Homo sapiens: one gene and its partner. The protein of the gene in region 1 purifies or fractionates together with the protein of each later gene. This does not show direct contact. Each region holds a gene or a part of one and is shown on either strand. Other genes may lie near its edges.

The links.
Region 2: the proteins of PPARD (region 1) and TRMT6 purify together in Homo sapiens (affinity purification with mass spectrometry; 3 studies listed by BioGRID and IntAct, with this or other methods). This does not show direct contact.

What each region holds. Positions count from the first base shown.
Region 1 is NC_000006.12:35,415,558-35,431,492, forward strand, and holds the end of PPARD (peroxisome proliferator-activated receptor delta), read left to right. Parts: intron 1-4,569; coding exon 4,570-4,724; intron 4,725-6,262; coding exon 6,263-6,401; intron 6,402-8,388; coding exon 8,389-8,591; intron 8,592-8,771; coding exon 8,772-9,222; coding exon of another isoform or gene 9,223-9,230; exon of another isoform or gene 9,231-9,843; intron 9,844-10,274; coding exon 10,275-10,522; 3' UTR 10,523-12,621; downstream 12,622-15,935. UniProt on the Homo sapiens protein: Ligand-activated transcription factor key mediator of energy metabolism in adipose tissues. Receptor that binds peroxisome proliferators such as hypolipidemic drugs and fatty acids.
Region 2 is NC_000020.11:5,945,351-5,961,782, forward strand, and holds the start of TRMT6 (tRNA (adenine(58)-N(1))-methyltransferase non-catalytic subunit TRM6), read right to left. Parts: upstream 5,184-16,432; 5' UTR 5,056-5,183; coding exon 4,928-5,055; intron 1,184-4,927; coding exon 1,056-1,183; intron 1-1,055. Other genes in the region: DNA helicase MCM8, read left to right, coding at 6,666-6,813, 7,074-7,178, 9,258-9,340, 9,752-9,901, 11,776-11,879, 13,178-13,376. UniProt on the Homo sapiens protein: Substrate-binding subunit of tRNA (adenine-N(1)-)-methyltransferase, which catalyzes the formation of N(1)-methyladenine at position 58 (m1A58) in initiator methionyl-tRNA.

The DNA of each region.
Region 1 (15,935 bases):
ACTGAATCCAAACATTTGGATAATGACATGGTGCCTCCTCAGCAGTGACTGTGTCTTCTTGTTCATCATAATAATGTTATTGATTAGCGGTACTGAACATGTAGGTATGCGTAGTAGTGAGATGCCGAGGTTAAGAGCTCAGCTCCAGGAATTGCATGGTTCTAGGTTATAATTCTTGCTCTGTCACTGTATTAGTCAGGGTTCTCCAGAGAAGGAGAACCTGTGTGTGTGTGTGTGTGTGTGTGTTGAAAGAAAGAGATGTGTTTTAACGAATTGGTTCACACAGTTGTTGGAGTGGCAAGTCCAAATTTTGAAAGGCAGGCAGGCTGGAGAGCCGGGGAAGTTGATGTTGCAGCTCAAGTCCAAAGGCAGCCTGGAGGCAGAATTTCCTGTTCCACAGTGGGGCCACGGTAGGCACTCAGTCTTTTTTCTTAAGGCCTTCAGTTGTTGGATGAGGGCCACTCACATTATGGAGGGTAATCTGCTTTACTCAAAGTCTTCTGATTTAAATGTTAATTGCATCTAAAAAATATCTTCTTAGTGGCCGGGCACAGTGGCTCATGCCTGTAATCCCAGCACTTTGGGAGGCCAAGGTGGGTGGATCACCTGAGGTCAGGAATTCAAGACCAGCCCAGCCAACATGGTGAAACCCCATCTCTACTAAAAATACCAAAAAAAACTAGCTGGGCGCCTGTAATCCCAGCTACTCGGGGGGCTGAGGCAGGAGAATCGCTTGAACCCGGGAGGCAGAAGTTGCAGTGAGCTGAGATCGCGCCATTGCACTCCAGCCTGGGGAACAAAAGCGAGACTTCATCTCAAAAAAAAAAAAAAAAAAAAAAAAAAAAAAAAAAAACACCTTCTTAGCACATTGTTTGGTCAAACAACTGGGCACCGTGGCCTAATCAAGTTGATATGTAAGACCAACATAGCCGCTGCCAGCAAGTTACTAACACTTCTGAGCCTTGGAGCCTCGGCTTCCTTGCCTGTAAAGTGGGGGTAAGAAGACCATCTTGAAAGGTTGTTTTGAGGTTTTACGTGAGATGAAATGGGTGTCCAATGGAGTGCCTTTAGCAGGACACCTGCTTACCCCCACCTCTACCCAGGACATCATGATGCGGGGGAAGTGGTGGAACCTTCAGAACCCAGCCCCTAGTATGAGAAGAATTCTGCCATCACCTTTCTTTCAGCAGAGAGGGAAGCAGTCCCCTTCCGTGACAGTCACATGCGTGAGTGATGGCTCCTTCCAATATCCTGCACTTCTTACTGCCCCTTACCTGGCGTTGCTCCACTCTGTCTCATGTTCTAGTTTTCTTATCTCTTTCTCTTTTTTTTTCTATTTTATTTTTTTCCTGTAGGCACAAGTGAGTTACAGTAGGTTAAGTTACACCTTACCTTTCCTTGTTTTTCTTGTTTATTTATTTGTTTATTTATTTTTTTGAGACAAGGTCTTGTTCTGTCACCACAGGCTGGAGTACAGTGGTGCAATCACAGCTCACTGCAACCTGGACCTCCCAGGCTCAAGTCATCTTCCCACATTCAGGCAATCCTCCCACCTCAGCCTCCCAAGTATCTGGGACTACAGGCATGTGCCACCACACCCAGCTAGTTTTTAAAATTTTTTATAGAGATAGAGACAGGGTCTCACTATGTTGCCCAGGCTGGTCTCAAACTCCTGGGCTCAAGTGATCCTCCCGCCTCAGCCTCCCAAAGTGTTGGGATCACAGGTGTGAGCCACTGCACCTGGCCTTTTGTTTTTTTTAAGTAGAGACAGTCTTGCTTTATCACCCAGGCTGGTATACGATGGCACAATCACAGCTCTCCTAGGCTCAAGGATTTTCCTGCCTCAGCCTCCTCAGTAGCTGGCACTATAGGCAGGTGCCACGACACCCAACTATTTTTTTTTTTTTACTTTTTATAGAGACAGGGTCTCACTATGTTGCTCCTGGCCTCAGGTAATCCTCCTGCCTTGGCCTCCCAAAGTACTGCGATTACTGGCGTGAGCCACCACACTCAGCCGAGTGCAATGGCGCGATCTCAGCTCACTGCAGCCTCCGCCCCCCTGCCCCCGGGTTCAAGTGATTCTCCTTCCTTAGCCTCCCGAGTAGCTGGGACTACAGGCATGTGCCACCACGCCCAGCTAATTTTTGTATTTTTAGTAGAGATGGGGTTTCACCATGTTGGCCAGGATGGTTTCAATCTCTTGACCTCGTGATCCGCCCGCGTCGGCCTCCCAAAGTGCTGGGATTACAGGCGTGAGCCACCACACCCAGCCCTGCTGTTACCTCTTTCTTACCTCAGCTATTTGAGGATAGAGTCTAGGTCCTGTCCTGCATATAGAAGGTGCTTATCATGTGTCTTTTGAGTGAACACAGAGGGTGACATTGTCACGTGCAGTGCCAACAGAAACCAAATGACTAGACACCTGCTGACCTTCCATGGCCACAGGGAGGATGAGAAAGGCACCTCCAGGAGGTGTGAATAATCTGAGGGTATTGGCCACTGTGGACAAGACTCGGTGGTGGAAGTGAGCTCAGAGATCCAAAGGGAACGTGAGTAGAGACATGCAGAGTCTCGCAGAGGAAGCAGACGTGCAGGCCACAAAGACAAAATTACAAGAAATGCCCCAACACGAGCATATGCTCACGGACTGCACAGATTCAAGGAGGAAGTGCCAGAAACCCTGCCTGCCCCAGCATCTGCACAGGCATCCACAAAGGGTTTCTGTCATGTTATCTCTTTTTCTTCCAACATCCGGTGCTGTGAGTTTTATTGTCCCTGTTATAAATGCCTCCAGGAGTGGCAGGTCCTGCCCAGCCCCATCAGCCAGTTGGTGCTGCAGTCAGGACACCCAGGCAGCCTGAGGACTGCCAGATGTGCAGAGAGCTATCGCGTGCCTGCTGCGTGCCCAGCACCTCACACAGCTCTCAGTGTCTGACCACGCTGGTGCCCTGGTGGACAAAGTTCCTGCCCTTGTGGCCCTTTTGTCTAGTGGGTGGCTTCCAACAATGAACACACACAGGATATGTCAGGCGGTGACAAAGGCTACTGAGAAGACCAAAGCGGCTTCACCCTCCCAGAGCACAGCTTTTCCCTCCCAGGCCCGAGAGATGTAGGGAGCCCACTGTCCCAGTCTGGGTCAAGAGGAACAGTTACAACACCTTGGAATGACTGAAGTTGGGAGCTAAGGTGCCAGGACAAGACAGGCCATTTTAGGAACCAGAGACTTGTGTTACCCCTAAACCTCACCAGCCAGGAGGGGAGCAGCCCACTGGGTCCTCTCTGCCACAGTTGGGTGCTTCTTGTGCTCCCCCTCCTGTGGTCAGGATAGGGGAAGCAGGCTTTCCTGCTGCCACTCCTAGGACCCAAGGGGAAGCTGGGGGAGTGGGGAGACCATGTGGGAAGGATGGAGTGCACTTTGATTGGTAGCAGGTGGATAGGTACTCCCATGGTGGGGAAATCAAAGTTGCTTGGCCTGTGTAGTAGACAGGTATTACCACAGGCCTGGAAAACATTAGCCTGGGTTTATCTCTGTGGCTTCGGTCCCCCAACATCCCCTTCTACTCAAAATGGCTGATTCTCTGGTTTGGAGGTTTGGCACCTGCTTTTGGGGAGGTTGCTCAGTCATTAGAGAAGAGTGCAGAGGTTGGACGGTCATCATGGCAGAGGTAGGACAGCTGGTATGTGGGGCCATGAAACCAGCTTTGGGCTAGGAGTCAGGAAGCTGAGACTCAGTTCAGGTCCCCTTTCCAAGATGAAGAGATCATTTCCGAGTGTCCAAAGGGCACTGGGAAGAGAATCCTAGCAGTTCTTATGAAATCATCTGACAGCAGATATATCCTGAAGTCATAGCCTTAGCAAACTGCCTTTCTCGCCAACACACTCAACACCCCGTGGTTCAAACATCTATACGTCTGATAGAAAAACTTGGAGAAATTCAGTGTGTTGCTTAATCAATATGACTGATACCTAAGCTGTTCTACTCAAGAAGTTTTCATGGGAATGAACTTGAGCTTCTTGAAGAGATTGTTTACAGCATCCCTGGAGTCTATGCAAGAATAGAACTTCCTGTGGGGGATGGTGGGGAGGCTAGCTCTGCAGAGGTCTACAGTCCTGCAGTTTCTGCAAAACACGTTGCACACATCTCCATATGGGCCACACGGTGGCAACCTCTGAACCAGGAGAGCTGCTTCCTAAGGGCTAAGACCCTCTGTCTGCTTTCTCTCTCTTGCTTTCCTCCCAAAACACAGCCATCCTCCTCCCCACTGCTACCCCATGGTGAGTTCAGCCCAGGAAGCCTCTGACCCAGCCCTGATGGTAATAGCTGCTGTGTACTGGACATCTTCTGTATGTTAGGCTCTGGGAGAAATGCTGTGGAGACTTTTTGCCCATCCTCCCAGAGAAGCTGTCAGTACCCCCTGTTCTAGGTGAAGAAACTGGTCCTCAGAAAGGTTGACTCCCTGAGGCCACACAGCTGTTAAGTGGCTGAGGCGAGGGCTGTGGGGCTGTTCCCACGCCCTGGCTTCCAGGCCTGGCAGCATGTGGAGCTGCCCCTCCATCGTGTGTCCGCAGACCTCTCCCGGAGCTCCTCGCCACCCTCACTGCTGGACCAACTGCAGATGGGCTGTGACGGGGCCTCATGCGGCAGCCTCAACATGGAGTGCCGGGTGTGCGGGGACAAGGCATCGGGCTTCCACTACGGTGTTCATGCATGTGAGGGGTGCAAGGTACGGACTGGGGGGAGCGGTGGCTGGCCACTGAGGCTGTGGTCACATGGTGAATTGACCCTCCACAAAGCTTTCCTTGCCTTGGGGTGGGGCCCTGACTGTACCTATTGCAGAATTCCTGCCCAGGAGGCAGCCAGGCCCTTGTGCTCCAGACCTCAGCTCTGGGCACTGCAGGAGAAGAGGGGGTTCCCTTGTCAAGCCTACCCTGCTGGGCACCTGTGTTGACCCAGCTCTGTGGGTGATTGTGTCCCCCTGGGGACCAGGCAGCTAGGGCAGAATGAGGGTCTTGGGCTGAGCCATCGTCTTACCTGAGGTCTGGGTTTCTTGTTTCTCAAGGCTCAAAGCGGGCTCTGAGAAAAAAGGACAGACATTTGTTTTTCCAGTGATATTTGTGGGTCCTTCCTAACTTCACACCCATCAAAATCTCACAGATTATTTTATTGAATCACCACCTCACAAATACACAGAACCAGATACATTTATGAAGAAATCAAGTTAGCCGTGAGACAATCTTATGTTACCAAACTAACAAAGAAGCTTTTTTTTTTTTTTTTTTTTTTTTTGAGATGGAATCTCGATCTGTCGCCCAGGCTGGAGTGCAGTGGCGTGATCTCAGTTAACTGCAACCTCCACCTCCCGGGTTCAGGAGATTCTCCTGCCTGAGCCTCCAGAGTAGCTGGGATTACAGGTACATGCCACCATGCCTGGCTAATTTTTGTATTTTTAGTAGAGATGGGGTTTCACCACATTGGCCAGGCTGGTCTCGAACTCCTGACCTCAGGTGATCCACCTGCCTTGGCCTCCCAAAGTGCTAGGATTACAGGTGTGAACCACTGTGCCTGACCCAATTTTTGTAGTTTTAATAGGGACGGGGTTTCACCATGTTGGCTAGGCTGGTCTTGAACTCCTGACCTCAGGTGATCCACCCACCTCGGCCTCCCAAAGTGCTGGGATTACAGGCGTGAGCCACTGTGTCCAGCCCCAACAAAGAAGCTTTAGGACTTCTTTAGACATTTAAAATAGTTGTGTTTTTTTTTTGTTTTGTTTTGTTTTATTTTGTTTTGTTTTGTTTTGAGATGGAGTTTCACTCTTGTTGTCCAGGCTGGAGTGTAATGGCGCGATCTTGGCTGACTGCAACCTCCACCTCCCGGGTTCAAGCGATTCCCCTGCCTCAGCCTCCTGAGTAGCTGGGATTACAGGGGTGTGCCACTACACCCAGCTAATTTTTCTGTATTTTTAGTAGAGACGGGGTTTCACCATGTTGGCCAGGCTGGTCTCAAACTCCTGACCTCAGGTGATCCGCCCACCTCGGCCTCTCAAAGTGCTGGGATTACAGGCGTGAGCCACTGTGCCTGAACTAAAATAGTTTTAATTAAAGTTTTAGAATTACTTTCCTTCTCCATCTCCCCTCCAAAAAAATTTCTTCTCGTTACTTCCAAATGTCAGGAGTGTTTACACCTTATACATAATCGGGCCCTTTGGCACAGCCTCCCTCCCACCTCCTGGTGGCCTTTCCTCACCTGTTCTTGGTGCTTCAGGGCTTCTTCCGTCGTACGATCCGCATGAAGCTGGAGTACGAGAAGTGTGAGCGCAGCTGCAAGATTCAGAAGAAGAACCGCAACAAGTGCCAGTACTGCCGCTTCCAGAAGTGCCTGGCACTGGGCATGTCACACAACGGTGAGAGCTGACCAGGGCAACTCACGGGCTGCTGGCTCCACACAGCCTGAAACCAAGGTCCAGGGAGCCCTTGGGGCAGCCTAGAGGGGGCACCTGTAGAGCAGTGCCTGGCGCACAGTAAGCACCATGGCTGTTGGCTGTTGGCTTTGCTGATCTGGACCTTGGATCTTAGAGCCTAAGACCTGCCACTTCCTCAGACTGCCAGCATCTACCATGGGTCCCAGGCGTGGGGTAGTGTTTACCTCCCTATACCTGAGGTTTACGCATTCTGGCCCAGAAGGGAACTGATAATTGATACCAGCTTGAACAATTTGGGGAACACCAGTCCCAGAAACTCAAGCCTGTCTCAGATGACCTGACACAGCATGAAAGCTACTGCCAAGGCCAGGTGGCCCTTCTTGGTTATAGAAGGCAGGCAGTAACCAGTAAGTAACCACATTTGTCAACTGCCAGGAGCCAGGCAGAAGTTTCTTGGAGGTCACCCACTCCCAGGAGACAGAGCCTTCTCTGCCCTGTGCTCCAGGCCTCCTGCAGAGCCTTGTCTTCGGACCCCAGGGTAGGATATTGCAAAGCCCACCTGTCCCCTCAGTACCTCTCTGAGTAAGACCCCTAGAGGACAGGGGAGAGCCTCTTGTGATCTCTACAGGCAGGTTAGCTGCTTGGCCAGCTTTTACCCAGGGATGCCCTAACTGCCTTGCATCTTAGAGGGTAGCAGTACCTGAGCCCTCCATTTGCGGCTCTCCTGGGTAATGGGGTCTGGCAGGTCTGGGTTTGACTCCTTTCTTAGGAAATCTCGGAACTGACTGAATCCCTCTCCTTACGCTAACTCCAGGAGAAGTCGAATTCGTATCCTACTCAATTACTAATGACAACAATTTTTGAGTGCTTACTATGTGAGGATTCTTATTTAATTGATCTAATAACTCAGTAAGTTTTAAAAAGTATTAGCCTCATTTTTCTGATTAAAAAAGAAAAGTGGCCAGGTGCAGTGGCTCACACCTGTAATCCCATCACTTTGGGAGGCCAAGGTAGGAGGATTGCTTGAGTCCAGGAGTTTAAGACCAGCCTGAGCAACATAGTGAGACCTCATCTCTACAAAAAAAAAAAAAAAAAAAAAAAAAATTTAGCCAGGCTTGGTGGCGTGCACCTGTAGTCCCAGCTACTCAGAAGGCTGAGGCGGGAGGATCACTTTAGCCCAGGAGGTCAAGGCTGCAGTGAGCCATGATTGTGCCACTGTACTCCAGCCTGGATGAGAGTGAGACCCTGTCTCAAAACAAAAAAAGAAAAAGGCTGGGCATGGTGGCACATGCCTATAATCCTAGCACTTTGGGAGGCCAAGGCGAGTGGATCACCTGAGGTCAGCAGTTCAAGACCAGCCTGGCCAAGATGGTGAAACTCTGTCTCTACTAAAAAAAAAATACAAAAATTAGCCAGGCATGGTGGTGGGCGCCTATAATCCCAGCTACTCGGGAGGCTGAGACAGAGAATTGCTTGAACCCGGGAGGCAGAGGTTGCAGTGAGCCGAGATCGTGCCACTGCACTCCAGCCTGGGAGACAGAGCGAGACTCTGTCTCAAAAAAAAAAAAAGAAAAGAAAAAGAAAAGTGAAGGAGTCTGCCCCAAGTCACAAAGCTAGTAAACTGCTGAGCTGGAACTCAAGCCCAGGCCTTTGTCACCAAAGTCTGTCTTACCCCAGCTAGCGTAGCTCAGTCACTCAGTAAGTTAGAGTCCTTGTGTGCTGGGCACTGTGAACAAAACAGACAAAATCACTGCTCTTGCAAAGATACACCAAAAAAAAAAAAAAATCACATCTTGTGGAGCTTGCGATCTGGAGGGGCCACCCCATCATTCCTACCTTGCTGACTCTAGAGCTTCTGGGGGCCTTAGGCTCCAAAAGGATTTGGCCCATGCACCTGTAAAGGGATGGGGATGTCAGAGGTGCTGGGGCCTGCCTGGGCTCCTTGCTGACTGCCCCCTTCCCTGTGCAGCTATCCGTTTTGGTCGGATGCCGGAGGCTGAGAAGAGGAAGCTGGTGGCAGGGCTGACTGCAAACGAGGGGAGCCAGTACAACCCACAGGTGGCCGACCTGAAGGCCTTCTCCAAGCACATCTACAATGCCTACCTGAAAAACTTCAACATGACCAAAAAGAAGGCCCGCAGCATCCTCACCGGCAAAGCCAGCCACACGGCGGTGAGTGTTGCTGCTGCTTGGCCTGGCAGCATCCTGGGCTCTGGGTCCCACTGCCGCCTGCCTGACTCCGGGAGAGCCAGGCCTTCTCCCTCCCTCAACTTCATGGTGCAGGCAAGGGACATGGGGAGCACAGGGTGGGGGTCTCCCGAGGCCTGATCTCTAACGGGGCCTGGTTTTCAGCCCTTTGTGATCCACGACATCGAGACATTGTGGCAGGCAGAGAAGGGGCTGGTGTGGAAGCAGTTGGTGAATGGCCTGCCTCCCTACAAGGAGATCAGCGTGCACGTCTTCTACCGCTGCCAGTGCACCACAGTGGAGACCGTGCGGGAGCTCACTGAGTTCGCCAAGAGCATCCCCAGCTTCAGCAGCCTCTTCCTCAACGACCAGGTTACCCTTCTCAAGTATGGCGTGCACGAGGCCATCTTCGCCATGCTGGCCTCTATCGTCAACAAGGACGGGCTGCTGGTAGCCAACGGCAGTGGCTTTGTCACCCGTGAGTTCCTGCGCAGCCTCCGCAAACCCTTCAGTGATATCATTGAGCCTAAGTTTGAATTTGCTGTCAAGTTCAACGCCCTGGAACTTGATGACAGTGACCTGGCCCTATTCATTGCGGCCATCATTCTGTGTGGAGGTGAGTGAGAGTGGGGCAGGTGGGCTGGCCTGGCACACCCAGTCGTCCTGGGGGTTGGCCCTCACTGCAGGGCACTGTGCCTGAGCTCTGACAGTGTGGGGAAGTGTCCCTGTGATCTTGGCAGTGGAACATGCAAGGCACTGACTGAGCATGCAGGATCAGCTCCATCTCATTATGTACGTAGATAGAGGTGGAGACAGGAAAAAGACTAAGCCAGACGTGGTGGCTCACACCTGTAATCCCAGCACTTTGGCAGGCCGAGGCGGGTGGATCACTTGAGGTCAGGAGTTCGAAACCAGCCTGGCCAACATGGTGAAACCCCGTCTCTACTAAAAATACAAAAAATTAGCCAGATGTGGTGGCACGCGCCTGTAATCCCAGCTACTTGGGAGGCTGAGCCAGGAGAATCGCTTGAACCCGAGAGGTGGAGGTTGCAGTGAGCCAAAATCCCACCACTGCACTCCAGCCTGGGTGACAGAGTGAGACCCTGTCTCAAAAAAAAGGAAAAGGACTAACAGGCAGTATGCTGTCATGTTAATGTGGGGTGGAAAAATTGTCTGCATTTTTTCTGCATTTTTAAAATTCCAACACAATAAATACAATAATAACTATGCTAACTAACAGTGGTCTAGAGCTTACTTCATGCCAGGCACTGTTCTTTTCATCGATGATGACTCACTTGATCCTCACAACAACCCTGTGCAGGAAGAATGTTTTGTGTCTCCATTTTACACATCAGAGAGGCTGAATGACCTGCCTATAGCCTCACAGGCAGACACAGGATTTGAATTAAGCATTGAGTCTCTTAACCACAATACTACGTTGCCTAATCGGGGGGGAGGTGGGGACAAATTGGCAAAAAACAAAAGAAGTGGATTAAGACCAGGGGTAGGGAGATTAGAACACCCAGTGGAGCATTGCTGATGGGACAGGGCTTGGTCTGTCACGGCCAAGGAGGCCTGCCGTCCCCTGGGCCAAGTCACCTCTTGGGGTGGAAGTAGGGGAGCTCCACTGCCTTTCTGAGCTCCCTGGCGTGCCCTGTGTCCCCACAGACCGGCCAGGCCTCATGAACGTTCCACGGGTGGAGGCTATCCAGGACACCATCCTGCGTGCCCTCGAATTCCACCTGCAGGCCAACCACCCTGATGCCCAGTACCTCTTCCCCAAGCTGCTGCAGAAGATGGCTGACCTGCGGCAACTGGTCACCGAGCACGCCCAGATGATGCAGCGGATCAAGAAGACCGAAACCGAGACCTCGCTGCACCCTCTGCTCCAGGAGATCTACAAGGACATGTACTAACGGCGGCACCCAGGCCTCCCTGCAGACTCCAATGGGGCCAGCACTGGAGGGGCCCACCCACATGACTTTTCCATTGACCAGCCCTTGAGCACCCGGCCTGGAGCAGCAGAGTCCCACGATCGCCCTCAGACACATGACACCCACGGCCTCTGGCTCCCTGTGCCCTCTCTCCCGCTTCCTCCAGCCAGCTCTCTTCCTGTCTTTGTTGTCTCCCTCTTTCTCAGTTCCTCTTTCTTTTCTAATTCCTGTTGCTCTGTTTCTTCCTTTCTGTAGGTTTCTCTCTTCCCTTCTCCCTTGCCCTCCCTTTCTCTCTCCACCCCCCACGTCTGTCCTCCTTTCTTATTCTGTGAGATGTTTTGTATTATTTCACCAGCAGCATAGAACAGGACCTCTGCTTTTGCACACCTTTTCCCCAGGAGCAGAAGAGAGTGGGGCCTGCCCTCTGCCCCATCATTGCACCTGCAGGCTTAGGTCCTCACTTCTGTCTCCTGTCTTCAGAGCAAAAGACTTGAGCCATCCAAAGAAACACTAAGCTCTCTGGGCCTGGGTTCCAGGGAAGGCTAAGCATGGCCTGGACTGACTGCAGCCCCCTATAGTCATGGGGTCCCTGCTGCAAAGGACAGTGGGCAGGAGGCCCCAGGCTGAGAGCCAGATGCCTCCCCAAGACTGTCATTGCCCCTCCGATGCTGAGGCCACCCACTGACCCAACTGATCCTGCTCCAGCAGCACACCTCAGCCCCACTGACACCCAGTGTCCTTCCATCTTCACACTGGTTTGCCAGGCCAATGTTGCTGATGGCCCCCTGCACTGGCCGCTGGACGGCACTCTCCCAGCTTGGAAGTAGGCAGGGTTCCCTCCAGGTGGGCCCCCACCTCACTGAAGAGGAGCAAGTCTCAAGAGAAGGAGGGGGGATTGGTGGTTGGAGGAAGCAGCACACCCAATTCTGCCCCTAGGACTCGGGGTCTGAGTCCTGGGGTCAGGCCAGGGAGAGCTCGGGGCAGGCCTTCCGCCAGCACTCCCACTGCCCCCCTGCCCAGTAGCAGCCGCCCACATTGTGTCAGCATCCAGGGCCAGGGCCTGGCCTCACATCCCCCTGCTCCTTTCTCTAGCTGGCTCCACGGGAGTTCAGGCCCCACTCCCCCTGAAGCTGCCCCTCCAGCACACACACATAAGCACTGAAATCACTTTACCTGCAGGCTCCATGCACCTCCCTTCCCTCCCTGAGGCAGGTGAGAACCCAGAGAGAGGGGCCTGCAGGTGAGCAGGCAGGGCTGGGCCAGGTCTCCGGGGAGGCAGGGGTCCTGCAGGTCCTGGTGGGTCAGCCCAGCACCTGCTCCCAGTGGGAGCTTCCCGGGATAAACTGAGCCTGTTCATTCTGATGTCCATTTGTCCCAATAGCTCTACTGCCCTCCCCTTCCCCTTTACTCAGCCCAGCTGGCCACCTAGAAGTCTCCCTGCACAGCCTCTAGTGTCCGGGGACCTTGTGGGACCAGTCCCACACCGCTGGTCCCTGCCCTCCCCTGCTCCCAGGTTGAGGTGCGCTCACCTCAGAGCAGGGCCAAAGCACAGCTGGGCATGCCATGTCTGAGCGGCGCAGAGCCCTCCAGGCCTGCAGGGGCAAGGGGCTGGCTGGAGTCTCAGAGCACAGAGGTAGGAGAACTGGGGTTCAAGCCCAGGCTTCCTGGGTCCTGCCTGGTCCTCCCTCCCAAGGAGCCATTCTGTGTGTGACTCTGGGTGGAAGTGCCCAGCCCCTGCCCCTACGGGCGCTGCAGCCTCCCTTCCATGCCCCAGGATCACTCTCTGCTGGCAGGATTCTTCCCGCTCCCCACCTACCCAGCTGATGGGGGTTGGGGTGCTTCCTTTCAGGCCAAGGCTATGAAGGGACAGCTGCTGGGACCCACCTCCCCCTCCCCGGCCACATGCCGCGTCCCTGCCCCGACCCGGGTCTGGTGCTGAGGATACAGCTCTTCTCAGTGTCTGAACAATCTCCAAAATTGAAATGTATATTTTTGCTAGGAGCCCCAGCTTCCTGTGTTTTTAATATAAATAGTGTACACAGACTGACGAAACTTTAAATAAATGGGAATTAAATATTTAAGAGCTGACTGGAAGCTGACTCAGTTACTTGCATGTTTTTCCTGGGGCTTACAGGGCTCCACGCCTCCTCCACATCCAGTACTGGAGGGCAAAGGAGGCTTTGGGCTCCAAAACCCTCCCCTGCCTCCACCTCGCTTTGCTCACCGCTTGTCAGTCAGGTGGACGACTATGCCATTTCCGCCCTGCAGAGAGAATTTGGGGTGTGAGGGGACAAAGGACTTGTGGTGCCCTGGCCTCACCTGGTGGAGCACTTGGGGTCTGGGGAAGGGGAAGGCCCCTGGAGGAGGCGGATGCAGGACTCAATAGATCAAAGCCAGTTTTTCATCACCACAAGAGATCACGGCTTTCCTCTCCTTTGCTGCCACCCAGCTCTCTCCTGTCTTTCCTGAGTGCCATCTCCCCAGCGGTCCAGTCGAGCCCAGCCCCCGGCAGCCATGGGTTTGTTTGCAGTGTGAGGCCAGGTCAGGGTGTGTAACAGAGTATGTGTTTAGTCAGGAAAAAACTACAGCTAAATATTTCCAAATGGGGAATGTACTGCAGGGAGTTGTTACAAAAGTATTGGAAGTACTGAAAGATCAATAGGGGGAAATAGGAGTCATCCAGAGATGACTAACTGCAGGAAGCCATTCTCACCTCCAGGGCTGAATGGGAAAATGGTATTCAGGGCCCACCGTTGCTACAACACACACTGACACTGCGGCGACCCAGGAGCCTGAAGTCACCAGTTGATTTGACTGTAGAACCAGACTGCTGGTGCCTGAGTTCACGCAGATGGTACATATGGGGCCACCAGAGTGCCCGAGGCCACCACCACTGCTGCCCCTGGAACCTCACTGCTTGAGTGCTGTAGCCCCATAACTCATAGCCTGGTCTCAGCTGCTTCTGCCAGAAGTGCTGTCAGAGTTTGGGGTTGGGGAAGCAAAGGATTCTTCCTTCTGCCTATCTTCCAGTCTGTTGCTTTTACCTCCCATTGGGGGAAAAAAATGCATGGTAGTCTAGGAAATGGAGTTTGTAGACTTCCAGCCCTTGCAGCATAGAGGAGCATGTGGAAGGGTGGGAACTGAACCAAGCGTCTGCAGGCAAACAACTAGCACAGCGTACAGGCACCAGCCCCAGTGTGAGGGATCCCAGAGGCCCACAGCTAAGGGATGGTCACTACAGCACTTGCCTCCTTGTTTTCTTTCTTTGCTGGTCATCTTGGCAGAGCAATCTGAATTGTCAGGTCCCATATGGTTCATCTCAGTCCAGAGAGTGACAGCCCCAGGGGAACAGGAGGAAAAGAGGAGAAGGAAGAAAAAAAGGGGTGCTTGGAACCAGGGCATCTCTGAAATTGGTAGCCTTTTTTATAATGGAATCCTCTGGTTTACTTGGTGTTATAAGTAAAATGTTTATTCAGAAACAGAATGCTTGTTCCTTGGAACTATAAGGAAAAATTAGCATTTAGACAAAAAGTTTTCTCAGCAAGGCAATTTTACTTTCTGCAGGAAGGGTGTTCCTCACAGATGGAACAATGGCGAGAGCACACACGAACAAAGGAGGGAAGCAATTTTTATCCTTTATGCAGCTTGTCCCTGCTACTGTGTCCTGTCTCCATTGGCTGAAGCCAGACCACACAATCTAAGCTAAACCTGACTGGCTAATAACTTAAAACTTTCCTAAATAGGTGAAGGCAAGGGAGAACAAAGGAAAAGAGGAAGTTGCTTGCAAAAGGACTTAGAAAAGTAATAACCAAATATCTGGTTAAAGTACAAGGACATAGAATGTACTAATTCCCTTATATCTAACAGCTACACAGGATAGGGCTTAACAAAGAGTTATTAGCACAAAACAAGGTGGCTTGAAGGAAGTTAGTCTTTAAAAGAAACTATTATTTCTAACACTTATGATTTATTTTTTAACAAGAAGGGAAACTTTGAAGAGGAACCTTTTTTACTTTCTACACTTGGTTTATTTTACTCACCTCCCTATTCTTTCCCACACTATCAAATGGGGAAAAAATAGTCAAAGACTGTGTGTGTCTCAGTTGTTAAAGGCCAGTCCTCTTCCCAGCACTGAAGAACCCAGTATACTAAATAACCAGTTCTCACTCAGTTCAGAGAGTCGAAGCTGTCTCAACCACTTTGCCTGGCTTCTGGTGCTGCAAAGAGCATCATATGACTCTGGCCCCCGTTGTTACTACCCTAATTGCTATTCCTTATTAAGCAGCTATTCATGCATTATACATACATCACCTCTAATCTTATAAGGTAAACATTATCACCTGTCATTTTACAGAGGAGGAAGCGCAATGAGAGATTAAGGGGTGTGCCTGTGGTCACAGCTAGGAAGAGGCATGGCCGGTATTCCATCCGCAGCCTTAGGATCTCTGCTTTTCAGCCAGGATCAAAACTTTGGGGAAAACAGTTGGTCACCTGGTCTCTTTTTAATAATGCTCAGGACAAATGAATCAAGCATTTAAACTAAAAAAAGAAGAAAGCAAACTTAGGAGACTTAGAAGATTCTCTTGGCAATAATTCTATAAACCTAAAAGTATTCTGAAATTAGAAGTTTATTAGAGAGATAGCCGGGCACGGTGGCTCACGCCTGTAATCCCAGCACTTTGGGAGGCCAAGGCGGGTGGATCATGAGGTCAGGGGATCGAGACCATCCTGGCTAACACGGTGAAACCCCATCTCCACTAAAAATACAAAAAATTAGCCAGGCATGGTGGTGGGCGCCTGTAATCCCAGCTATTCGGGAGGCTGAGGCAGGAGAATAGAGTGAACCCAGGAGGCGGAGCTTGCAGTGAGCCGAGATCGCACCACCGCACTCCAGCCTGGGCGACAGAGCGAGACTCCGTCTCAAAAAATAAAAATAAAATAAAAAATACATTAAAAAAAAAAAAAGAAATCAAGGTTGGGCGTGGTGGCTCACACCTGTAATCCCAGCACTTTGGGAGGGTGAGGCGGGTGGATCACCTGAGATCAGAAGTTTGAGGCCAGCCTGGCGAAACCCTGTCTCTACTAAAAACACAAAAAATTAGCCAGACGCAGTGGCACATGCCTGTGGTCCCAGCTGCTCCAGAGGCTGACACAGGAGAATCTCTTGAACCTGGGAGATGGAGGTTGCGGTAAGCTGAGATCGAGCCACTGCACTCCAGCGTGGGCGACAGAGCAAGACTTCGACTCAAAAAAAAAATCAAAACATAAGAAAGGAATAATTTGCTTTGTTTGTTTTTTTGTTTTGAGATGTAGTCTCGCTCTGTAGCCCAGGCTGGAGTGCAATGGCATGATCTCGGCTCACTACAAACTCTGCCTCCCAGGTTCAAGCAATTCT
Region 2 (16,432 bases), on another chromosome or scaffold:
CAGGCTTTTGGCACCTGCTGCTTCCTCTGCCTGGAAGGTTCTACGACAGATGTCTGAGTGGCTGGATCCTTTCTATCACTTGAGGCTGAGCTCATTCTCTTGCTTTACCAAATTAGTACACGCCCCTGCTTTATTATCTTCATAGCATGTGTCACTTCACCATCAGAAATCATGCTGTTTGCTTGTCTACTTGATTATTTTTGGTGTTCCAACTGGTAAGCACATTTTATACGACAGTCTATCTTATGAACTGCTATAATTGCAGCGCCAAATTATACCTGGCATATATTTGGTGCTTAGTAAAAATATGGATATTAATTTAAATGTATCTAAATAACAGGTTTGACTCAAAACTTTAACAGTATTTAACTTCAAATAATTACTTGTGTTTTAATTAATAAGATACTCTCAATGTTCATTTTAATAAATATAATTTTAATTAACAATAACAGCTTTTGGACAAGAGGTTGTTAAGAAATAATAATAGTAATAGCTAAAATTATGGGCCCTTACTAAAAGCAAGACACTATTCAGAACTTCCTATGAGTCATATCATAGAACACTCAATACAACCTAGGCATTAAATGTGTTTATGACCCTATTTTACATATATAAGGATATAAGACTCACAGAAATCAAATAAGTTGCCCAACGGTACAAGGCAAGTGATGAAGGTAGAAATTGAACTTAGCTGGATCCAAAACCAGACCTCTTAACCTCTACACCATATGCTAACCACCTCACAGCTGTTACATAACTTCTGGGCACTGAAAGAACTTTACATTATGTTCTTGCAATGACGCAGCAACGACTCATAGGATTAAATGCCTGGCCCAAGAACAGAGAACCATTTAATGGTGGGCTGGAGCCAGAATCCAGGTTATCTCATGGCCAAAGGCAGTACTTGCTTCACTCCACTGAGCTGCAGTTCTTAGATTATGAGTTAAGATTTCTTTTGGGATAGCATGGCCTAGCACTTGGGAATTAGGTGGAGGCTGAGATGTTTCTGACTAGTCAGTTGGAGAGCATCTATTTCACGCATCCAAAATGTGCACCTGCAGTAGGCTCTTCCCTCTTCTTCTTGGGCTGTAGACTTCCTCCACTGGTCACTTCAAATGCAGTTCCATAACTATGGCCAATGACGTTATCCAGGTAGAACCACTGTTTTTCGAAAGTTACTTTTCTAGGGAAAAAAAGTAATCAATTAACTGAATATCTTTTCTATCCAGTACAGAAAAGACATGTTCACTACAGTTTATTTCAAAAGTGGTCTCCACAATGGATGATCAGCAGCATTATCTCTGAACATAAAGCAACAAAGGAACTAGAGAGAACCTGGTTGGGATAGAGACGTAAAATTAATGAATAAGCCACAAGAACACTGAATTTTGGAAAGGGGAAGCAAAGACTCATCGAAGTAACAAGGATTTAACAAATTTCTTGGGCTTGGTCTGATCGGCCATTTTATTTGAAAATTATCTAATAAAAGCAAATTATACTTGCAAATAAACACTGACAATCTACACACTTGGAAATGGAGCCTAACACTGACAATGCTCTACTGAGGACCAGGCAACTTGAGGTTTCCTATGACATAGATTTTTTATCTTATTGCAATTTAAAAGAGAAATCCCACAGGAACACAATGCTTTCTTCTCAAAAGAAAACTAACATCTGCTGAGTGCCAACCAGGGGCTAGGCAGTGTGTGCGAGGTGTGATTCACACTTTTTGATTTAATTCTCACGGTAATCCTGGGACATAGCTCTTTCCAGAAGAGCAATCCGAGGCCCAGGGAGAAGTATCTTGTCCAAGATTCACAGTTGCAAGGTGTTGTTGGAGCTGGGATTCAAATTCAAATCTGTGTCTGACCCCAAGCCTCATTCTTTCCACTATACCACACGGTCTACTCCAGCAAAGACCTAAGGACGGTAGAAAGCCCACCTAGCTTCAGGACATGGCCCATGTGCACAGAACACTGAATTCTGGGAATCATGTGGTGGTTAATTCTGATTGTGCCCCATCCCACTCCTTCTCTTCCTTTCTCTGTGCCACCAGGAAGCTGATTACGACAGAATATACTGCCACATCACCCACGCTCCCGTGTCAGAGGCTTACCACCATTGCTGGTCTCTGGGTGTGTCACCTTTATTGGTTCCCTAAATCGGCCACACTTTTGAGTCACATCTTCATTAAAGCTTACTCAAACCATCTGAGGGAAATCCTGTATGATCGTAAGTGATTCAGATATGGCCAATTCTTGTTATTTGCTGGGTCCCTAGATACTTACATACAACAGAATGTAACAGACACTCAAAATATTTGCTAATGTAAACCTCCTCAGATGTTGCAATTCAGCTCAGCCCAGATGTGCACCCCCTATCCTCATCCTTTAATCACCTAGGTGCTTTGAAACACTGGATCTGGCCAGGTGTGGTGGGTCACACTTGTAATCCCAGAACTGTGGGAGGCCAGGTGGGTCACTTGAGTCCAGGAGTTTGAGACCAGCCTGGCTGACGGGGAAAAACTCCGTCTCTACAAAAAATAAAAAAATTAGCCAGGTGTAGTGGCACACACCTGTAGTCCCAGCTACTTGGGAGGCTGAAGCAGGAGGGTCACTTGAATTCAGGAGTTTCTCTACAAAAAGTACACAAATTAGTTACTGAGGAGGCTGAGGTGGAAGATTGCTTGAGCCCAAGAGGCAGTGGTTGCAGTGAGCCAAGTTCACGCCACTACACTCTAGCCTGGGGGACCGAGTGAGATCCCGTCTCACAAAACAAACAAACAGACAAACCAAACAAAAACACTGGATCTGAGATGGGTGGGTTTACCTCTCTGAGAGCCTATGTGATATGCAGAGGGGATGATGCGTGTCACTTAAAACTGGCTGGTTTGACAGGTCACTGCCCCAGTCGGGAATGTGGGGCCCCGTTAGAGGGATAAGGAGGCCACATCTTTACTGGGAAGGAGTAGGATTTGCAGAGTCTACTTCTCAGAGAGCCTGGACTGTTTTTTGCCCAATCAGATGAGTGTAGCCCCAAGGGTGATGAGGGAGTCTGACCTGGGATGCAGCTGAGCTGAGAGAGTCATTTCCTAAATAAAATGGAAACTGCCACTATGACTTCTGCGAAGAAGAGGGCCTGTTGAAAAGTATTTCCAAATAAATGTTTAGGGCAGTGGTCTCCAACCCTTTTGGCACCACAAAAGGGGAAGGTCAACTACTGTTCATGCCTGTAATCCCAGCACTTTGGGAGGCTGAGGTGGCCGGAATTACTTGAGCCCAGGAATTGGAGACTAGCCTAGACAACATAGTGAAACTCTGTCTCTGCAAAAAAAATTAATTAGTTTAAAAAAGAAAAAAAAGAAGAATTTAAAAATGGTTAAAGGTTGGTGCAGGTATTACATTTCCGGACTAAAAGAAACATACCCCTCATAAAAGAAACTTTTTATCTTTACTAAATTAGTGCTTGTGCAAAAAGCTTGGTTATCACCAGCTTAGTGCTCTGGAGACTTGTTTCTTGACTATTTTATGATGCTTGCTTCACCTTAAATACCAGTCAACAGTTTGCTTAAACCAGGAGTAAAAGAATTCATCTGAAGTAAGTACTTATCAGAAATTCCAAATCTCATACTTCCCAGTCTGCAGAAAGCTGTTCTCCTGACATTGCATTCAACTTATCTCTGTCAAAAGTAATACAATAACCTAGCTCAAAAGAAACTGTGGCCAGGTGCGGTGGCTCACACCTGTAATCCCAGCACTTTGGGAGGCCGAGGCGGGTGGATCACCTGAGGTCAGGAGTTCGAGATCAGCCTGGCCAACATGGTGAAACCCCGTCTCTACTAAAAATACAAAAAAAAAAAAAAAAGATTAGCCGAGTGTGATGGTGCCAGAGTCCCAGCCACTAGGGAGGCTGAGGCAGGAGAATCGCTTGAACCTCGGAGGCAGAGGCTGCAATGAGCCGAGATTGCACTACTGCCCTAAAGCCTGGGTGACAAAGCAAGACTCCGTCTCAAAAACAAAAACACTGTGGTTGTATTTCTCAGATAAATTAATCCAAATATCCCAATAAATTTTCACCATTAATAAGCTCTTAGGACTTAACAACCTCACCAGCCCTTCCAGAAAGTTATCAAAATCCCACTTCTTTACTTCTATAAAACAGAGCGATACTAGCCAGCAGGTGCACAAACCAAACCTAATTTGGAGTTCTGAGGCCTTGAGCAAATTGCTTTTTAGCAATTTTCCCAGCGTTGAATCCTTTGGTGAGTAAAACGAGGGAAACTCAAAGTGATTCCACACTCTGTGGTGAATTGTCTCCTTCATCTATTCTGTGTATCCTGCTTGGGTAGAGAAGAGGATAGAAAGCCAGACTAGGTAGGAGACGTTTCATTTTTTGTGGGATAGATCCTGACTGGGGGATTAGGGAAGAAGGAGGATCTATGGTGGAAAAAAAGGGGGAACCTGAAGGAGACTCTGGAGACAAGGATGAGATCCTAAAGTGAAGAAAGGAGGGGGTGTCTCTGGAAAGACAGTGAAGATCCCAAGGTCCTAGGGAAAGAACTTCAGGACAGGTGATTAGGGTGTGGAGAGGGAGGCATTGGCACCCTAGGGCCAAGAATGGAATTCTGGGGAAGGAACTCTGTGGAAAGACTGAAAAGGATGCTGAAGGTGGACGGCCAGATATGAAATCATGGAGGGGGCTCCGGGAAAAACAGGAGGGTTAAGGGAGATTATGAGGTTCGAAGACGGGATCCTGGTGGAAAAGCCTTCTGTGACAGAAAGACCCGAGGAGACAACGAGGGCGGGGAATGGGGACCGAGAGAGCCAAGAATGGCACCCTGGCGGAAGAATTCTGTGGAGAAACCTGGAGGGAGGGGGTATCTACAAGGTGGGGGCGGGAGACCCCTAAAATCAGCGATCTGACTTACTTTCTCCGCTGGACTTGTACTGCTTTAAACACATCTTCACGTTTCAGCACCACGAAGTCGCCGTCGCGGATGCGGTGGTCTCCGGGATGCTGTGGTTGTGGGCCCGGCTGCTCCCCTGAGCCCTCCATGACGCTCAGCCGGTCGCCGTGCTCCACGGCGTCCCGCCCCTCCTCCTCGGTTGTCGCCACCGCCAGCCTCACTTCCCACAACCTGGCGCACTAGGAGCCCTCCGACCGGCACCGCCCCCACGTGTTGCACGCCGCTTCCGCTTTCCGGCCCAGACCTCAAGACCGCTTCCGGAAGCCTCTCGGCTTCCGTCTGGCCAAACTCCTTGATTGGCTGCACTCCGCCCCGCCCCTCTCGTCTTGCCGCTTCTTTGAGCGGAAGTTGGATCACTGAAGCGCCAAAAAAGAATTTAGGGGAAGACCTGATTTTCGCTTGAGGCATTTTTGCGGCGCTGTGCGCTACAGACACCTTCTGGAAGCTGCGGTGGGGAAACTGAGTTTCCCGAGCCGTTGAGACAGATGGGGTTCAGCACCGCGCGGGGACGACAGGAAAGCTGCGGCTGAAGAGAACTGCGGACTTGGCAGGAGTCGCCTGAGGAGCTAAGATCCCGGAGACTCTTAGCCCCGTGGTGCTTCTCTACGGGAGGGAGGGAGGGAGAATCCGGCCGGACAGATCTGCGCGTATCCTGGAGCCGGCCCAGTTGTGAACTAGGAGAGCTTTGGGACCTCTGTCCCAAGCAAGTAAGAACTTTAGCCTTAGGAGATGTAAATAAAGTAGTATTTGAAGAAGCACAGGTACCCAACTGTTTCTTTTTACTCTTTCTCCAGTCCTACTTCTTAACGTTTTTTTGAATTTGTTACTGTTCTCAGCATATTGTCTCGTTTGAGAAGGGTATGGCACGCAGCGTTGTTGAAGGAGCGCCTCAGCTTGGGAGGCTGAAAGTTTTATCTCTGTACTGTCGACAAACAACTTTGATCTTGATCGGTTTGCTTAATTTCTTTGAGCATCAGTTTCATAATGTGTAATGCCTAATTATTGGAGCCCTGTCATGCCGTTAAATCGTGAACTTTCTAGTTACTATCTTGTTTTATTAACTAAACCCCTTTTAAGTAAGGATTTGGGTAGAGTATTTGATAATGAATTGCACTGCAGCGTACAGGTATATCTTTATTTACTTGTATACTTAGGATATGAATCATTTTTAAGTAGACGTGTATTTTATAAGAACAGTTTTGGATTTACAGAAAAACTGCACAAAAAATGGATGTGACACTGCAGGATTGACTGTATGTAAGAAGCTATGATGATGTATCCCTAGTGTCTCACAGGCCAGAATTATGTTCATCCTGTCCTGCCCTATAATAAGAAGTCTCAAATACTGCAAATAAGTTTTCATAGAGTTAATTACCTGTCCTATTTTCATTTCTGTAATGGGGACTTGTAAACAGGTACAGTACCTGTCCTTATTTTTAACCTGTGAGCGTCTAGTATACGTAAACCATATTTAATAGTTATTAAACTATTATGGTATACCTTAAAAAGCGATAGAGATTAGAAACTTAACTGCAGAATATTTGGGTCTTGTATCATAGCTGTACAACTTTGCAAGCCTGTTTGCTACTCTTGAACCTAGAATACATTAATTTTTCCCTTTTTATTAATACATTTTTAAGAGCACTATTTTCCTTACAGTTTTGGTGAAGACCTTTTTAATATCTATCTTTTAGGAGAGATGAATGGAGAGTATAGAGGCAGAGGATTTGGACGAGGAAGATTTCAAAGCTGGAAAAGGGGAAGAGGTGGTGGGAACTTCTCAGGAAAATGGAGAGAAAGAGAACACAGACCTGATCTGAGTAAAACCACAGGAAAACGTACTTCTGGTAGGTGAGGTCAATGATTGTTCAATTTTTTTCACTTAAGGAAGCAATTCACGTCTATCATACAAGGCGGTTTATCTCATACTTCAGTTTGTCTTTTATTTCATGCTACTCCTTAGTAAGTATTTGAACATTGATGTCCCAGATTTTTACTAAAACCCCTAATTTGGATACTCTATTAATGAGAGTCTCATTTGGAAAGAGAAGCATATTGGAAAAATGTTCACTCTGTTTCTACTAACCTAGTATTTTATTTTTTTCAGAACAAACCCCACAGTTTTTGCTTTCAACAAAGACCCCACAGTCAATGCAGTCAACATTGGATCGATTCATACCATATAAAGGCTGGAAGCTTTATTTCTCTGAAGGTAGGGTTTAAAAAGTACAAAAAAGCACCATAAATCATATTTTCTTAACTTGTCTTTGGATGCTACATCTTGTATTACTGTAATTCATTTACTAACATATACCTGCTTTAATCTTAGTTCACCCAAACAATTAAATGATGTTTATGTTTCAAAAGCATTTTAGACTTTATATCAGTCAGGAAAGCAGAAACCATACTAGGTATTTCAAAAAGGGGACTTAATACAAGAAATTGGATACAAAAATGGAAGACTGAAAGAGCAGAAAGGAAATATTGAGGTAACTCCCCAGAAAGTAGTAATTCAGGAAGCAGCAACCATCCTTATGGCTAAGAGACTAAAAGAAGTTCTGAGGTTACCAGAATGTGGGAATTCAAAGGTTGGAGAGGTCACAGCATAGCTGTTATTTTGACTTTTGAGGGGCACCCTACAAAGCTATGCTTGGACTTCTGAAGGCTACCTTACAGAGCTGTGCTTAGACCACTAAGGCAAATGAAGCTGGTTGCCACTGGTAACTGAGGGGGCATGACTCAGTGGTGCTTGGAACTGGAGGCTAGCACTATCGTTATCTTCTGCAGCTGCAGAGATGCTGAAAAGAGTTGGAAACAAGAATAAATTCCTTTCTCTTCCTGCCACCTTCCCGTCTCTAAAGTGCCTTCAATTGGCAGAATTTAAAGAGAATCTGAGACATGTAGGGTACAGATCTGAATTATAGCATCGCAGAGCAGGAAGTAGAACAGTGGGCCTGAAATCAAGGGACAATAACAAATACAGCTTTGTGTAGAAACACAGGTAAGGAATCTCCCTTTGATAATTAGGAATACCAATTAACCTACATCAGTCTGTATAGGTGCAGGGAACTGTCTTTTTTGTGCTGTTAAAATACCCATTTGTTTCTTATGTCTCATGAGGGGTGTGTGTGTGTGTGTGTGTGTGTGTGTGTGTGCATACTTTTTATTTTTTTTTGAGATGGAGTCTTGCTCTGTTGCCCAGGCTGAAGTGCAGTGGCGCGATCTTGGCTCACTGCAAGCTCTGCCTCCCAGGTTCACGCCATTCTCCTGCCTCAGCCTCCCGAGTAGCTGGGACTACAGGCACCCGCCACCACGCCCGGCTAATTTTTTCTGTTTTTAGTAGAGACGGGGTTTCACCGTGTTAGCTAGGATGGTCTTGATCTCCTGACCTCGTTATCCGCCCGCCTCGGCCTCCCAAAGTGCTAGGATTCCAGACGTGAGCCACCGCACCCAGCCGCATACTTTTTTTTTTTAGGAAAACTAGACGTTTGAGGTCCAGGACCCTCCCTGCCCCATACCAGGCATGCAGTAGTCATTTTGTGAATGAATAGAGTACTTTACAAATGTTTTCTTTATTGGAAATCTGTTCGTTTTTTTCCATCAATAGAATCTGTTTCATGAATGATCTTTTGTTCCTTTAGGATGTATTAGCCACCAGCACTCCCATTGCTCCCCTAGCAGATAGCTCAGAACACTATAAGTGATCTTTGGACAGTCCTAAAGATGGAGTTCAAGAGGTGCCTTAGCCTTCACCATCTGTGCTTCCAAACTACTTTATTGTACTGTTCTTCTGTGAGAGACATATTTGAAAATGTAGAACTTTAGAGTGTTAAAAAAAAAAAGGCTTTTCAGTTTTGCCACCAGGGTCAAGTGTTGGTCTGTCTCCTGATCTCAGGAAAGACTGTGATTGTGATTGTCTTCAGCTCTGTCAGAGTAAGAGCTTAGTTTATGTGTCTGGCTTTGGCTTTATTATAATTTTTAGTTTAAGCTTATTGTCTAAATTATCTGAACTAACATGTCCTATTAGGTGTCAAAGATGCAAAACAAAGTTTCCCAGATAGTGGGGCTTTTAGAGAGAGAGAGTTTCTGTCTGCATTTCACATTATGCAAACCTAAATTTGTTTTAGAATCTTAAGTTTACATTCTATACTAGTTCTTATATGAATGTAATCAAAATACAAAGCAATTAGAAAAAAATCATCTACCATGTATATAGTGCTGCTTTTGTCTCATGAAAAATGTGCATGTACCTGTGTGATTATTTGTGCTAATGCCATATTTGTTGGATTAGTTTACAGCGATAGCTCTCCTTTGATTGAGAAGATTCAAGCATTTGAAAAATTTTTCACAAGGCATATTGATTTGTATGACAAGGTAAGATTCCTCTACAGCAAAGCTACCAGTCATGTGCCATCTTACCAATGTATTCGAGGTACTTGTGATTATGATCGTAGGCACTGGAGTCAGACTTCCTTGGTTCAGACCTCAGTTCTGCCACTTACCTGCAGTATGGACTTTGATTAATTACTTCTCTGTGCCTCAGTTTTCTTTCATTTGGAGATAGAGGTATAAATACCTACCTCAAAGGATTGTTAAGAGGCAGTAATACATTAATATATTTAAAATATCAGAACCATGCTTGGCACAAAGCTTATACTTATGTCATACTTACCATTATCACATATAAACATTGTATGCTTTCTCAAAGTCTATAATAGAATGCTCAGTTAATGGTAATTGACTACAGAAAAGCAATTATTGTTTTCATACTTTTATATTTTATAGGATGAAATAGAAAGAAAGGGAAGTATTTTGGTAGATTTTAAAGAACTGACAGAAGGTGGTGAAGTAACTAACTTGATACCAGATATAGCAACTGAACTAAGAGATGCACCTGAGAAAACCTTGGCTTGCATGGGTTTGGCAATACATCAGGTAACTATTTGTCTTATGCATACTTTTGTCTAAACTTTTTTAATGTTTGCACACACATGCACACCTTGTCTAAGTTTAAAGGAAGATTTTACAGTGACTGTACTTTCTATAAGAGATACTTAGCTTTTACGAAAAGATGTTGGCTAGAACTGAGAGGTTGCAGTTCCGTTCTGAAAGATACCATTCATTCTATATACAACAGCTTATCTAAATGAAATATTTACCTCCAACTTATTTGGATTTGCTTAATCTTGCTAAAGATTGTGCAGAAATTAAACTTTGCTTTCAAGAAGTTATACAATCTCATAGGGAAGATAAAACAAGGAATCATGGTGTTATCGGTTATGAACTTAGAGCAAAAAAGAGCAACCTTAGATTTAGGTTCTGTGGCATGAAGCAAACCACTGAGTGTCCCTGTATATCAAATGTAAATAACAGTTTGTACTGTGCTTGCCTGAGTTTTTTTTCAGGGTCAGGTAATACAACATATATGAAAACATTTTTAACTTTTTAAATTTTTTAAATTTATTTTTTATTTATTTTTTTGAGATGGAGTTTCACTTTGTTGCCAGGCTGGAGTGCAGTGTCATGATCTCCGCTCACTGCAACCTCTGCCTCCCGGGTTCAAGTGATTCTCTTGCCTCAGCCTCCCGAGTGGCTGGGTGCACCACCATGCCCAGCTAAGTTTTGGAGTTTTAGTAGAGACGGGGTTTCACGATGTTGGCCAGGATGGTCTTGATCTCTTGATCTTGTGATCCGCCTGCCTTGGCTTCCTAAAGTGCTAGGATTACAGGCATGAGCCACCTTGCCCGGCCAAAAACATTTTTTAGGCTAGCAAACAGATACATGCTTCAAGGTAATGAATAGCAAATCTCAGGACAGGCATACACAAAGTGCTGGGGCATTCAGAGGGGCATTCTTCTACCTCTTGCCTGTGCTGTCCATTCAACATAGAATCCCCTTCCCTTCACATGGACAGATTATTTGGGCCTAGCTCAGTTGTCTGTCTGTAAAACCTTTCTCATGACCACTTTTCGAAACTTGCATGGTATTTTGTCTGTACATCTTTATGGTCCTTATGACAATTACAGCTGTATATATGCATCTTATTTTGCCTCTTAGGTTGCCAGCAAACTGCTGTGTACAAGTGGTATTAAATGTTTGTTTGTTGTTTATTTATTTATTTATTTTGAAATGGAGTTTTGCTCTTGTTGCCCAGGCTGGAGTGCAATGGTGTGATCTTGCCTCATTGCAGCCTCAGCCTCCCAAGTAGCTGGGATTATAGGCATGCACTGCCACACTTGGCTAATTTTTGTATTTTTAGTAGAGATGGGGTTTCACCATGTTGGTCGGGCTGGTCTCAAACTCCTGACCTCAGGGGATCCACCCACTTTGGCCTCCCAAAGTGCTGGGATAACAGGTGTGAGCCACTGCGCCCAGCGTGTTTATATTATTTAATGTTAAATGCCAAGGGAGTGAGTATTAGGTATTTTAAAGGTCATTTTTATTTTCTGTGTCTTGATTGGTCAGTGAATATAGAGAAATAGGAATGCATTTTTTTTTTTTTAATTAGTATCAAGAGGTGATGGTTTTGGGGACTAATGTAAGGGCTTTTAATGTTAGGTTTAGTTGGGACAGAAAGTAGCAGACTGGGATGCTGGAGTTTTTCAGCACAGGGACAGCAAAATCCAATGTAAAACATCCACTATAAAGTAAGTAGTCATAATTAAATATTAGATATTTAAAGGGCTGTTAAAGTTTTCTGTTTTTATTCTGTTTCTGTCCATAAACTTTATATTCTCTATAAAAATAGAGTTCTGTATAAAGAGGATGTTTTGTTTTCCAACTTCAGAGTAAATGTCTGTCCTGTTTAGGTGTTAACTAAGGACCTTGAAAGGCATGCAGCTGAGTTACAAGCCCAGGAAGGATTGTCTAATGATGGAGAAACAATGGTAAATGTGCCACATATTCATGCAAGGTGAGGAATTTGATGTATTAAAGTATTACTTAGAATGGGACATTGAAGGCCATTTAAGAATGAAAACGCTCATTTTATAAAAATGAGGAAATCAGTAAAAAGGACATGAGTTCCTTGCCATCTCATTGATCATCACACTGAAATAAACTCATTGAAAATTATTCAAAGACATCATGACAGATACTTCCTAAATAAGGAAGAAAATGTTGATTTCCTAACCTGCAGATTTTTGTAAACATTGGTTTTGGATGTGAACTTATCAAGACCCTGCTGTGTAAGTTTAATAATCCATGTATGGGTTGAGTATCCCTAATCTGAAAATCTGAAATCTGAAATGCTCCAAAATTCAAAACTTTGAGCCCTGACACGACACTGAAAGGAAATGTTCATTGGAGCACTTCAGATTTTTGAATTAGAGATACTCAACTAGTAATATTGCAAATATTTGGAAGTCCAAAAATTCCAAAATACTTCTGGTCCCAGGCATTTTGGATAAGGGATATACTCAGTCTGTAATACACTAAGTGTTCTTTGTTAAATTATTAGGTTTTTGTTAGATACAAGGGAATAATGAAATTATTTTGTTTTTCTTGAATTCATCTTTAAGATTTTAAATTCATTAGAAGAATTCATTATAAGGTAATCATCAGCATTTTGTTTTTCTTTTCCAGAATTTATAGAAGAAAATTTCCTAGCAGTTCTTTAAAAAGAACTTAGAAACCCAAAGGTTTTTGAATCTGTAGATTTTCCTTTTGGCATTATTTTTTTCCTTAAATTTCTTTTTTCTTTTTTCCTTGAGAACAGCCTGTGAGACAAGAAGAAAAAGGAAGATTTAGTGTTGTTTCTTGTTAAGAATGGTTTGGCTGGGCACGGTGGCTCATGCCTGTAATCCCAGCACTGGGAGTCCGAGGCAGGCGGATCACGAGGTCAAGCGATCGAGACCATCCTGGCCAACATGGTGAAACCCTGTCTCTACTAAAAATACAAAAATTAGCTGGGTGTGGTGGCACACACCTGTAGTCCCAGCTACTCGGGAGACTGAGGCAGGAGAATCACTTGAACCCGGGAGGCAGTGGTTGCAGTGAGCCAAGATGGCACCCCTGCACTCCAGCCTGGCAACAGAGCGAGACTCCATCTCAAGAAAACAAAACACAACAAGAATGGTTTAATTCTTGTGATATTTCTGATATATCGAAGGGATGATTTGATTTGAGAATTCCATAGTTGCTCCTAAAAGGAACTTGTGAAAATATAAAAAACATCAATTTTCTGTTCATTACTTCCTGTTTTGTCTTTAGGGTGTACAACTATGAGCCTTTGACACAGCTCAAGAATGTCAGAGCAAATTACTATGGAAAATACATTGCTCTAAGAGGGACAGTGGTTCGTGTCAGTAATATAAAGCCTCTTTGCACCAAGATGGCTTTTCTTTGTGCTGCATGTGGAGAAATTCAGAGCTTTCCTCTTCCAGATGGAAAATACAGTCTTCCCACAAAGGTAATACGTTCTTTAACTGCTTCTTTATTTATCTTGGTAAAGAAGGCAAATCAGAATACAGAAAACATTTCCCAGTGTTTCTGAACACAGAGCTTATTTTTATTTTTTATTTTCAATTTTCTGCTTTTATATTATGAAATACTTCAGGGTAAGAAAAATACAGAAATAAATAAAACATTCCACTACTCATCACCCCGAATTTACATTTTTCAGCTCCGGACACATTTTTTAATGATATAAAGCATTACTGGCACAATTAGTGTCTGTTTTTTACCTATACCATTCCCAGGGATGATCATTATCCTGAAGTTATTATAATATGCATCCCTTCCATTCATATTTCTGTTGACTTCTAGGTATACACACCAAGTTTTTTTTCCCCTTTATTTCTTCTACTATTTAGAAGTGATGGGTTTTTTAAATCTTTATTAGCCTTTATTAAACTGGATTTTAAAACTATAGAAAAGTGCAGAGAATAATGTAATTAACATTTATCTACTCTATGATTTGGCAAATATTAATATTATTTTAGCTTAATTTGTAACAAAAATATGGTTATATAAAGTTGAAGTCTTTCTGTTCTCAGTTTTATTCCCTTTATTTGCTCCCTAGATGCAACCACTATGCTGAAATTGGCATGTATTCTTCAAGTTTACATTTTTATTCTTGACTACATGTGTAGAGTTAGTTTTTTGTATTGTGTTTACGTAAATGGTATCCTGAATGTAACACGCAGCTGTTTTTTTATTTGGTTATTTTGTAGTTCTACCTATTTTAATACATATCAAATTCTTTCATTTTTACTATTGTGGAGTGTTGCTTTAAATAAATAGCCACAATTTATCCATTTTCCTGGAGGTAGACAATTGTGCTCTTTCCAGTTTTTTATAAGAACAAATGATACTGCAGAGAACATTCTTGTACATGTCTCCTTAGCAGAGGAATACTAAGTTGTAGGCTGTACTTTTTTTTTTTTTTTTTTTTTTTTTTGAGACGGAGTCTCGCTCTGTTGCCCGGGCTGGAGTGCAGTGGCGCGATCTTGGCTCACCGCAACCTCCGCCTCCTGGGTTCAAGCAGTTCTCCTGCCTCAGCCTCTCGAGTAGCTGGGACTACAGGCACGCGCCACCATGCCTGGCTAATTTTTGTATTTTTGGTAGAGACAAGGTTTCACTATGTTGGCCAGGCTGTTCTCAAACTCCTGACCTGGTGATCCGCCTGCCTCAGCCTCCCAGAGTGCTGGGATTGGCCGGCTGTACTTATTTTTAACTGTATTAGATGTTACCAAATTACTTTCCAGAGTATTGTTCCCAACTTAAATCTTTGCTGGTAGTGTTAAGTAGTTACCATTTCTCTGTCTTTTCATTAACACTTGGTATTGTTAGACTTGTACATTTTTGACAGTTTGTTAGGTATAAATAATACTGCATTTATAATGTGAATTTTTCTGATTTCTGTTGTGGTTGAGCATCTTTTCATATCTTTACTGGCCATTCAGTTTCTTTATCGAATTTTCTATTTATATCTAATGTTCATTTTCCTGTTTATTGGTTTATTCTTTAATTTTGTTTTTTAGAGATGGGGTCTCATTCTGTTGCCCAGGCTGGAGTGTAGTGACATGATCATAGCTCATTACAACCTTGAACTCCTGGGCTCAGGTGATCTTCCCATCTCAGCTTCCCACGTAGTTGGGACTACAGGTGCCAGCCACTGTGCCTGGTTCTATTAGTTTATTGATAGGAGTTCTTTATACATTCTAGATACTAATTATTGTTGATTATATACATTAGATATTTTCTCCCAGTCTTTGGTTTGTCTTTTAACTTTGTGGGTTTTTTTGTTGTACAGTTTTACATTTTGACATGATCAAATTGTTGTCTTTTCCTCCCTAATTTGTATATTTTATGCCCTGCTTAAGAAGCCGTTCTTCGGCTGGGCTTGGTGGCTCATGCCTGTAATCTCAGCACTTTGGGAGGCCGAGGCGGGCAGATCACCTGAGGTCAGGAGTTGAAGACCAGCCTGACCAACAGGGAGAGACCCCATCTCTACTAAAAATTCTAAATTAGCCAGACGTGGTGGCACATGCCTGTAATCCAAGCTACTCGGGAGGCTGAGGCCGGAGAATCGCTTGAACCCAAGAGGCAGAGGTTGCAGTGAGCCGAGATCACGCCATTGCACTCCAGCTTGGGCAGTAAGAGCGAAACTCCGCCTCAAAAAATACATAAATAAATAAGAAGCCCTTTTCACTCAAGCATTATAAACATATTTCCTACATTGCTTCTAAGAATCCTAAGTTTTGTTTTTTATCTTTAGATCTTTTGTCCATCTGGAATTTAAGCCATTGGTGAAGGGCATAAAACTAGGGATTTAAGCTGGGCATGGTGGCATATGCCTGTAGTCCCAACTACTCAGTAGTCTGAGGCAGGAGGATCGCTTGAGCCCTGGAGTTTGAGACTAGCCTGGGCAGCATAGTGAGACCCCCATCTCTTAAAAAAACAAACTAGTGATCTAATTTTTAGGTGAAAAGCTATTTATCCTGACACCATTTATTAATTAAGCCCTTGTTACCATGGATGTATAATGTTTCCTCGGTGGTACCCAGAGTCATCGTTATCACCATTGGGCTTTACTAAATTTAACATTTGCTAAATTTTTGCTCATGTGAAGGGTTGAATCCTTAGTGAGGTAAATAGTCCCTTGAAGAATTAAAAAGGGAAACATAAGATGTTTATGTTTGAAATTCCTAAGGCTTCTTTCTCTGACTGGAAGAAGAGGGTATGTGAGATTCAGCTATTGGTTCTGAATAATCAGTGGTGTTGATAGATGGGTTTCATCTGGTGTTTGTCTTGGCTTAAGGTTCAAGGTATAACCTTTAGCTTAGAGGCCAGAATTTAAATCCTGATTTAAACCAGATATTTTCTTCCTTTTATTTTGAAGACGGGGTCTCACTCTGTCACCCAGGCTGGAGTGCAGGGGCATGAATACAGCTCACTGCAGCCTTGACCTCCTTAAATCAGATATTTTCTAGACAGTATTTGTTCAGGGTATTTTCATGCCCC